Regions from separate parts of the Homo sapiens genome. Here region 2 is linked to region 1. Evidence: fine-mapped expression QTL. A gene starts in region 1. The other region holds a variant in brackets. All regions are shown on one strand. Distances are from middle to middle.

What was found. PIP is the estimated chance that this variant, and not a neighbour inherited with it, causes the effect.
Region 2: its variant is fine-mapped to the expression of CPNE4 in lung (TOPMed, PIP 0.91).

Annotation. Positions count from the first base shown.
Region 1 is chr3:132,032,357-132,037,734 of GRCh38, reverse strand. CPNE4 (copine 4) reads left to right here and starts at 2,721. Exons shown (of 16, transcript NM_130808.3): 1 at 2,721-3,168. RefSeq lists a silencer at 2,497-2,596 and an enhancer at 2,972-3,141.
Region 2 is chr3:132,282,663-132,288,040 of GRCh38, reverse strand. No RefSeq gene overlaps it. Among named protein-coding and RNA genes, the nearest start is that of ACP3, 32 kb to the left of the region's middle. The variant T/C (reference allele first, on the strand shown) is at 2,622.

The sequences.
Region 1 (5,378 bases):
GCCTCCTCTTATCTTATCAAACAGAAACCCGGCGAGTGAATCTACCCAGAGCTGAAGCTTCCTTTGCAACTTGGGAACACCAGGGCCACAGTGACTTTGTGGCTTGGCTTTAGATAAATTTGACCATGGCTGTAGAACCCAGCAGCTCAGAATCCATTAAAAGGAGAGCTGGGAGGAGGTGAGTGATAGAGACAAGGGGATTTTGATGTTACAATTGTTGAGGGGACTGTGGCTGGCGGGCAACTTGCTGTGGGGGCAGTGATTGAAAACATGGATTATTAGCTGGTTACAAATCTTCATTTGTACAGATGAGCTGTTGATTTCATATAAGAGGTGGAAGTAAATTCTGCTTTATGTGCCCTGTAAAAAGCTTCTTTGAATTTACCTTCAGTGTCATGCCTTCAGAAAAAAATTCCAAGTTTCTGGCATAAAGCTGCACGTTTTCTGCGCACTGGCATGCAGGCAACTGTTTGTTTCTAATTACGGAGCTGAAGCCTGCTGGCAAAGGAAACCATATTTGTCACAAGTTGTGGCATTGTGTTTAGTTTGTGTATCTATGCTTTTAACATGTAGGGCCAAAGATAACTATGTTGTTTTTCTTTTTCCCTATGAGCATTGACTCTATAACTTCTTTTCTATGGTCCATGTGTTCACTTATTCTAGCTGCCCCTTTAGAGACTGCTTCAATGAACAACCCCTATCCTCCCATTAACTAGTTGTGTTCCCTGGTCTGGTCATTTCAACCGCCCACACCCTGGATTTATTTTTGTAGATATAGTAAAACTTTCTTGGGCAGGTTGTTGTAAAAATTAAATGGGATGGTAAGTAGAGTGCCTAACAGATTGCCTGGAAATAGTACATGCTCAGCACATCTTAATTCCTTTTCTCTCACCTGTAATATAAGAAGTTTATGTTGAATGGTCCCTAAGGTATTTATATTATTTTTAATTTTATAAATGTAGAAGGTGGTAGACACCTTTCTAGGCATTGGGGTTATAATTATGAACAAGACGACAAAACAGACATATCCCTTGCCTTCATAGAAATTAAATTTTAGAGGATACAATTAACATGCAAGGAAATGCACAATGACTTTTCCTTCTTCTTCCTTCATCTTTGCAAGTTCAATCCAATTCAAATTTTGAGTTTATCTCTGAGGCTACCTCTTAACAAAACCTGGAAGTAATGTTTTTGGACTTAACATTTTCATATTTAGTAGTCATACACTGGTTTTGCCTGCTTAGCATCCGTCTCCCCTTTCCTGGTAGGAGGACCCTGAATATCCCTTGGAGAATTGTCCCTGTGTCTCACTCGCAATGTGTGTAGATCAGGTGGGGCTCCATCCTGGCTCCAGGAGTGCTATAGAAGACATCACATGCTCCTAGACATTGTGGAAGTCCTGGCCCATTAGTGTAATTCCATATCCAAAGGTCACAACGATTGACTTATGCATAGCCATGTGACCCAAGTTTTTGCAATCAAAGCAAATCCAAGGATTTCTGTGGTAGTTTCAGTGTACAGAGAAGCTCCCTGAGGTCCTTTCCAGGGTCCATGTTTAGTGTTATCCTATTTCAGAAAGGCTTTAGAGGTGACTGAAAGAAGAAAAATGTTATTTGTGTTCTGTCAGAAGGTTGTCCCTTTGTTTATCAAAGATATTTCTGTCTACTTCTATAGAACAATTAAGAGGGGGTCTTCCTCCTTACCCTATTGGTTCTCCTTTTCTGGACTTTGAAATTGAGAACTTCATGGTTAGTGAAAAGATTTTGGCTAATATCTCCTCCAACCTTCAGGTTGGAGAGGCTTTGTTAGATAGCCCCTTAATAGGGTGAGAAGGAAGACCTTCCATCTCCCCTCCACGTTAGATGTAACACACTCTATACCATCCCAATGTCAGAAAGAGACCGTCATTCACTTTACTTCATTAATTCCAAAGTCCAATTTGTGAGTCTGACAATACCAATGTGCAGAGAGAATTTAGTTGTCTAGTTTGTCTATGGTAGCAGACATAATCAGAAACAATGCCCTGTATTTGAATAAGTTCATTTGTCTGAATTTGAATAAGTTTGAAATAGGAAGGCCATACTTTCTCTCTAAAGTGCTTTAAAACATGTGGAAGTGGTCACCCCTTACATAAGACAGCATATTTATATCTATCTTTAAGCATAAGTACTCCCTAAGTATTTCTTTATCTTATTTGTGAGGTAGATGTATTCAGAAACTCATCATGAGATGAAGAAAATACTCTTTGTCCATTAATTTACTCATGCATTACTTACTAAAAATAATTTCCAGGCTCCTGCCATACGCCAGACAGTTTTGTAGACACGAAGGATCCAGAGATTAGCAACACCTTTACCATTTTTGGTGACAGTTAAGCACCCATCTAAGAAGTTTTCTTTGGTGAGTGCCAAAAAGTGTAACTCCCATTCCCCCCACACCCGCGCCGCGATACGACCGCTCCACCCTAGAGTGGAGATGGAGACCAAGCACTTGGAGATCTAAATCAAGTGTCCCCAGGAGCTCAGTTGAGCGACAAAGCTGAGCAGAAAGCCCAGACTGCGGGCGCGGCAGGACCACGGAGAGCGCCGCCGCCAAGGCCTGGGCGGGGCCTGAGCTCGGGTTCCCGGGGCAATGCTCGTCTCCGTCAGCAACCCCCAGGGGGCGCTCGCGCGGAGGTTTCGGAACCAGTCTCTTGCCGGGTTGCTGGGTGCATGGGATTCGTCAGAAGGTGGAAATCTCTCTGTGAGAAGCTGCCATCTCCCCGCCACCCGCTCGTCCCCTTCTCTTTCTGCCACCCTCCTTTCCTTCCTCCCTCGCTCCACTCCACTCCCTCCCTCTTTTCTCAGTACCCTCCTCTTTACTCTCCGAGTTAACTGAGAGCCGACCTGACATCTCCAACATTTTCACCCTCTTCCCCCACCCCCATCACCGAGAATGGAGTCAGGGTTTCCGGAGAGACCGAACTCTGCTCTCAGCACCTTTCCCAGCCGCTGTTGCTAAACTGACCTCGGAGGACGAGAGGGGAAGGAGGTGCGACGCCCCTTACATCAGTACAAAACTACCACACCAACCACCTCCACTTCAAAGCCGGATTTTGCATCCTGGGGGCGGGACAGACCTCGTCCCGGGCTGAATTCTCTCTCCACTCTTCGAGATTGGCACACCCAGGTAAGTAAATGCCAACTCTTCATTCCTGTGTTCCTGGGGCGCTGTGATTGCAAAGTCTGTTGGAGCTGCTGCGTAGCAAGACCAACTTTTGAGATGCACTGGTTCTCGCTCACCTTTGCACGTTTGTCATTGCTGTTGTTGTTTTAAAAAGCAGCAGCAAGCAACGTCTTTAATCTGAAGGGACTTCCATCCCCTACCTCTCGCCTTCTGACATCCACCCAACTCGCCCAGGTGGGGTGGGGCGAATGGAGTTGGGGAGAAAGACCGCGGAGGGGAGGGGACAGCATGGCACGGGTGAGGGATAGGTCAGGGAAGTCCCGAAGGCGGAAGAAGGGGTACGGTTTTCAAAATCGGGGAAGGGGAGGGGAAGGGAGTTCTGGCTGAAGTTGCAGCTTCCTCTCTGACAGTGAGAAAGCTGTGGGACATTGTAGTCCCTTCCAATGGCTTGACCTGGCTGCGGTTGGATTCAGCCTCTCAACCTCCTCCCCCACACTTCTTACAATGAGGTTCTAATAATATTTTAGTTGCCTCTTCTCAGTGTTAAAAACTAATGAATAGGCTTGCAAGTGCTTTGATTCAACGTAGTCCTTCAGCGCTTCTTCCTCTATGGAATAAAGTAGCCAGAAGGAAAGGGGGACGGGGACAGGGGACGGGACTGGAGGGACCACTGAAACCAAGCCACAGCTGAGTAAGGAGATCACGACCCCGCGTGGTATCACAGACACACGAGAACTGTTAGGGCTGAATCCAATGGAGATAATTAGGAGGTGGTCCACGCCAAGTCAAGCGAGTGCTGATTACCATCCGGTGAGGAGCAGGCTAAACCCTGATGAAAAATGCTCCTCCTTCATCTTGGAGTAGGTGGGCTTTAAGGCCCTATTTCCCATTCTATGTTCCAAATCTGACGGCGCCCCAGGGCGCCTTGGCGGATTGCCTTTCAGCCCCAGAACCTGCTAGGCTCCAGGGAAAGTCACAGGCGGCAGAGATGATCCAAGGGGCGCAAATCTATGAAGGGCTTGATGTGGGTGGTTGGGAAGTGGAGGGGGGAAAGGTGAGCAGAGTGAGGCGGGAGGGGGCTAGGGAAGCGAGAGTGCTCTGGGAAGCTTTGCAAGAGAGACATCTGAGAACCTCTCCCTCTACACACACACACACACACACACAGACACACACACACACTCACACACTCTCACAGGATTTCAGTGACTTGTGGGAAAAGATGCCTCAGCACCTTTACACCCTGTGTTCAAAACTATGCAAAACCAACTCTTCATCCTCTTGCTGCTTTGCCAGGGATTTTAAAAGCACTGTTCTGGTTTTTCTTGGCTCACTTGGTTTTGTTTCCTGAACAGCACTTTTGAGCTGTCCAAGATACTTTAATATGTTATCTTTAAATGAAACTAAATCCTGCTCATTCGCGCGCCCCCGCGCGCACACATACACAGGCGTACACAATTACCTTAACTTCAAATAAAGTGTTCTTTTCTCCATACTCTTCTATTCCCTTAACAATCCCTGTTCTCAAAGGCCTTTGTGTTTTATTTTCTGCTTTATAACAAAACAAAAAAACAAACACCCACCGTCCTATGACACAGGTGTTTTGAATCCATGTCAATTTTTGTAGTTAGTATATGCTGGTTAAACCACATAGCATATCCCCCAAAAAGCCAGAGGCAAGCAAAAACTTAATTTGATGCCCTTCAAGTTTCGGAAGGTCCCATTTCTTTTTATTAACCAAAAGATAAGATGAAGCTCAGCATGGCTATGGCTGTGATTAGATAACTTCTGATATTTTCATTTCCCTTACCGAGCTGCTGCTTCTAGGCTGAACTCATTCACCTGCCCATTTTTAAAGAGAGACTGACAAAGTCACTCTGGCAGGTCAGGACTCAGAGTTAGTCAAAAGTTCTCACATGTAGAGAGGTGCATAAAATAGAGGGAGGGTTGGAAAATGCAGTCAGAACACCTGTGTTAATAGTGCATACTAATAAAGGCCAACATTTTCTCAACTATCTCTCATGGGAAGATTCTTATGGTTTTAGAGGATCAAACTCAAAACACATCAGAATGAGGTGACTTTTCCATTAACATTACATAAAAGGATATATTGGTCTATAGCAATAGTAGATGTTTAATCCTGGGCAGTTTTGTATGATTGTGTGAGAAGAGATTGCCTATAATTGAACCAAACCTCTACTTATGTGTTAACAAGT
Region 2 (5,378 bases), 250 kb before region 1:
GAGGTGAGACTTGAATGCAGGAAAGGGGAGAGCCATCAGAGCATCCCAGGAAGTGTAAAAACCCTGAGGCAGGGAGTGAGATTGTGGTCTCAGAGGAAAGAAAAAAGGCCAGAGTGACTGAAGAATTGTAAAAATGGGAAAGGGCAGGAGCAGACAAGGTCAGAGAGGTAGGAAGGTGTTGAATCACCCAGGATCTTGTTGAGGCCATGGTGAGGAGTTTGGATTTATTCAAAATGCAATGGGAAGCCAAATGGGGAGTTCTAATCAGGGGAGTGATATGCATTAAAAATTCTGTGGCTGCTTGTGAAGAATGAATTATGGAGAAGCAAAAAAGGGAATGAGAACAGCCAGGAGGCTACTGTAGTGGCCCAGGAAACAGATGATTGTAGCTTGGATCAGGGTGGATTTGGGGAAGTCAAAAGAAGTGAATGGACGAGAAAAATACATACTAGTATTGGATATGAGATGTGAGGGAGAAGGGTGAGAAAAGGAAAAAAGGAAAATAGCTCAGAGCAGTCTGAGCTATGTGAGATATGCAGAATTTATCAGGCTCAGAGAAACATGAGTATGGGACTTCAGTCACCTTCTCCGCTATGTCTGGGACAATTGTTTAAAGGTATTTTGTTCTTGACTAGCTGCTACATCCATTTTCTTCCTGTTTTTGTGATACAAAGAACAATATATAGCCAATCATTAGCTTATGTTATTTTAATGTAAATTCTTGGTAAACAACTTAGGAACTGCCTCTTCTTTTACTCCTTAAAACTTCAACTAGTAACTGCTACTAATCAGGGTGTATATTTATGGCAACTTGAATCTATGCCCCCATGTGGCCATCCTCAAGCTTTGGACTCCTATAAACTCTATACTTAATTTTTCTGGTCCTCATTATTTAAGGCTAACGGGAGAATCAAGGGGCACTCCTAGGCATTGGGCTTCAGAAATTGGGTGAATGGCAACAAAAGTGTCAGACACAGATGATGAAGCTTCAGAGAGACACAGGTTTATCTTATTCATTTAAGACATACTTTTATATCTCTTACTATCCTGGTTCTCAACCTTAGCCTCACACTGAAGTTACCTTAGAATTAAAAAAATAGGCTGCGTGCAGTAGCTCATGCCTGTAATGTTAGCACTTAGGAAGGCTGAGGTGTGAGGATAGCTTCAGCCCAGAAGTTCAAGATCAGCCTGGGCAACATGGTGGAAGCCCCATCTCTACAAAAAATAAACAAAGGTAGCTGGGTGTGGTGACTTTCCCCTATCTATAGTCCCAGCTACTCAGGAGGCTGAGGTGGGAGGATGGCTTGAACCCAAGATGGCTGCAGTGAGCCATGATTGTGCTGTTCTTGGATCTCACGCAAGAATTTGAGGCATATCCATAAAGTGAAAACAAGTTTATTGAGAAAGTAAAGAAGCAAAAGAATGGCTACTCCATAGGCACAGCAGCCCCAAGGGCTGCTGGTTGCCGATTTTTATGTTTATTGATTATATGCTAAACGAGGGGCGAATTATTCATGAGTTTTCCAGAAAAGGGGTGGGCAATTCCTAGAACTGACAATTCCTCCCCTTTTTAGACCATATAGGGTAACTTCTTGAAATTGCCATGGCATTTATAGACTGTCATGGCACTGCTGGGCATATCTTTTAGCATGATAATGCATTATAGTTAGTGCATATAATTAATGTACATGTCTTTGTGACCTGTACTTTGTGCCAACCTTTTATCTGATCCTGTGACTTAGAATGCCTAATCTCCTGGGAACGCAGCCCAGTAGGTCTCAGCCTTATTTTACCCAGCCCCTTTTCAAGATGGAGTTGCTCTGGTTCAAAGGCCTCTGACAATGCCACTGCACTCCAGCCTGGCTGATAGGGCAAGAGCCTGTCTCAAAACAAAATAACAACAATAAAACCCTGTGCCTAATTAGTTATTAGAGAATTTTTTGGAGATTTTAATTTAATTGCTATGGTATATGGGCTGGATATCAAGATTTTTAAAAGCCACAAGTGATTCTAATATGCCTTAAAATTTGAGAAGCACTGACTCATTACCTGGCTGGTTCTGTTTCAAATGCTTTACAGGTGTTAATTCGTTTAATTCTCATAACAATCATGAAAGTTGATCATAAGAATTGGGTCATTCTTGTCACTCACAACTAAAACAGAGTTGAGAAGCCAGGGGGAACAAGCACGCAGGGTACAACATTGCTGAAAGAATGTAATTCTCTGCAAGCCCAAACTGCTTGTTGTAACCTGAAACCAGTTTTATCTCATCTTCTGAGATAACGTGCTGCAAAGGCTAGCACTAATTGTGCCCACAGCCACCATTCACCAGTTGAAGCTTTCTGACTCCCTAAATTCTTTCTTATGCCAATGAACTTTCTCAAAGAAGAATACATAACATTTCTCCTTTTTTATAAAACTGATATCGGAATAGGGCAGGGAAGTGCTGGGCGGAGAAGGGCGGGTCCCTGGCGAGGGCTCCACCCCCAGGCCTGTGCCCACGGACCTAGGTGAGGACAGGCATTTGTTTTCAGGTCCAAATGTTACATTTCCCAAGACCACCCTGGCCCACCATGCCCCCATCCCCCCATCCTGTGCCTATAAAAACCCTGAGACCCTAG[T/C]GGGCAGACACACCAGCGGCTGGACATTGAGAGGATCACAGCAGTGGAAAAAGACACAAGCACCTAGCCGTTGAGAGGAACGCACTGGCCTAAGAACATACTGACAGACGCCGGTAGGCCAGCAGGGCGGCAGGCCATCAACCCGCGGAAGGACACGGACTTTGGCCAGGGCGGTATAAGGTAAGCCCCGCTGCTGGGCGGCCTGGCTCCAGGGGAAAGCAACCTTCCATTCCATCTCCCTTCTGGCTCCCCCATCTACTGAGAGCTACTTCCACTCAATAAACCTTGCACTCATTCTCCAAGCCTACGTGTGATCTGATTCTTCTGGTACACCAGGGCAAGAAACCCCATGATACAGAAAGCCCTCTGTCCCTGCGATAAGGCAGGGTGTCTGATTGAGCTGACTAGCACAAGCCGCCTACGGACGGCTAAACTGAAAGAGCACCCTGTAACACAGGCCCACTGGGGCTTCAGCTGTAAACATTAACCCCTAGACACTGCTATGGGGTCGGAGCCTCACAACCCGACCGTCTGTCTGTATGCTCCCCCTAGAGGTGTGAGCAGCGGGGCACTGAAGAAGCGCGCCACACCCCCGTCACACGCCCTGCGAGGGGAATAAGGGAACTTTTCTCGTTTCAAAACTGCTAAGCCGTTCTTTGCTATTCGGACATACCCGAAGACCACCAGGTCTGTATGTATGGCCCAAATTGCAATTCTTTCTTCCCAAATAAAATATTAAATTTATGGATTCATCTCTACATGTTTATTTTGACTTTGATATAATTATATGAGAAAGGTACTATTATTAACTCTCATTTTATAGTTGAGGAAATTAAGGCTCAGAAAGATTAAGTTGCTCGTCTAAGGTCACATGACAGAAACGGAGCAGGGATCCCTCTTAGGGCCCCCCTCCCCCCCTTGCCAAGCATGGAAATAGAGGAAAATATTGAGTTCCTTCCGGGGAAATTCTAGGCAGTGAACTAGCCGCCTCACTAGCCCTGAGAAGTAAATAAGCAACTTGATAAGCAAGAAGATAATAGTAGCTGAAAACAATAGCCAAGGTAGTTAGAGTCCTGAGATGTTTGGTTCCCTATAGAAACTAAAGACAACATCTCAACATATGTCCCTGAGCTACTTTTCAGAAACACAGACCCCAGCCAAATGGATCCACTGGCATGTAGACCTCAGATAAGGGGCGATTGAGAACTGAACTCTGACTGCCGTTCTTTTTTCTAAACTTCTTCCTTAGGAGCCTAAAGGACGTCATACCCATGGGCCAGACCTAACATTCCTTTCTGCTGATCCCAAGTTTTTAGACAAAGTTTCCCTTCCTTAACCAATTGCGAATCAGAAAATCCTCGAATCCACCAATGACCTGTAAGTTCCTGCTTCAATATATACTGTCTTTTTAGGCCAAATCAATATATAACCTCCACATATGCCTTAAAATTCTGCCTGTAACTTCTACTTCCCTGAAATTTATCCCTGCTTTTAAAAACTCTTGCTTGTAAGCTATTGCGAAGGTTGGCTCTTACAGTGTGAGCTGCCTGATTCTCCTTGCTTGGTGCCCTGCAGATAAATGCCTTCTTTTCCCCCCTGCTGCAAAACCTTGGTGTAGATGTTTGGCTTTACTGCACTGAGTGAGCAGACCCTGGTTTGGTTTGGTAACATGACTTAAAAATTACAAAGAAAAGGAACAGGAACACAGCTCTCTGGTCCTCTGGTATTTAGAGCTGAAACAGAGGAGGAGGGGCCTGAAAACATGAAGGCAGAACTTAGAAGGGAAACAGGAGAGTGTAGTGTTGCAGAAGCTTGGTGGAGAGAGTATTTCAATGAGGAAGTGGTCAGCTTTTTTGAAAGCCCTGAGTGTTTGCTGAAGAAAGACAGAGACAGAGAAGTGACCACTGGATTTGGCAAGATGAGGTCGTGTTGAGTCTGATGGGAACAGTGCCTGTGGAGTGGTGGAGATGGAAGTACAATCACAACTGATTGAAAAAGGAGTGGGAGCTGAAGATGTAAAAGTAGTAACCACCAAGAACTCTTTGGGAAAAATTAGCTAAGAAAGGGAGCTGAAAACTGGGAGGGGGATGGAGGAGATTTGAAGTTGTGTGTGTATTCAAGTATTAATTTTGTATGATGATAAATAAAGAGTACAGAGGTGGGCACATCAGCTCATGCCCATAATACTGGCGCTTTGGTAGGTCAAGCCAGGAGGATTGATTGAGCCCAAGATTTGGAGGCCAGCCTGGGCAACATAGCAAGACCCTGTTCCTAAATTTTTTTTTTTTTAAATTAGCCAAGCATGGTGGTGTATGCCTATAGTCTCAGCTACTCTGGAGACTGAGGCAGAAGAGGATCACTTGAGCCCAGGAGTTGGAGACCAGCCTGGGCAATATAGCAAGACCTTGCCTTTTAAAAAGTGGGGGAAAAAAAAAAAAAAGGAAGGCATTTTGTTCCTGACTACCTGCCTCACCCATTACTTTCATGTTCCTGGAATTTTTGATATGAAGAACAATGTATAGCCTATCAGTAGCTTATGTGATTTTAATATAAAATACTTGGTAAGCAACTTAGGAACTGCTTCTTCTTTTTCTTTAGAAACCTACTTGTAACTGTAGCTAATCAGAGCATATATTCAGGGCAACTTAAATCTATGTTCACAAGTTGCAGTCTTCAAACTTGGTCCAAATAAAATCTCTACTTACGTTAAGTTGGCCTCAATTTTTTCCTTTAGGTTGACATTCCTTTGATCTTTTA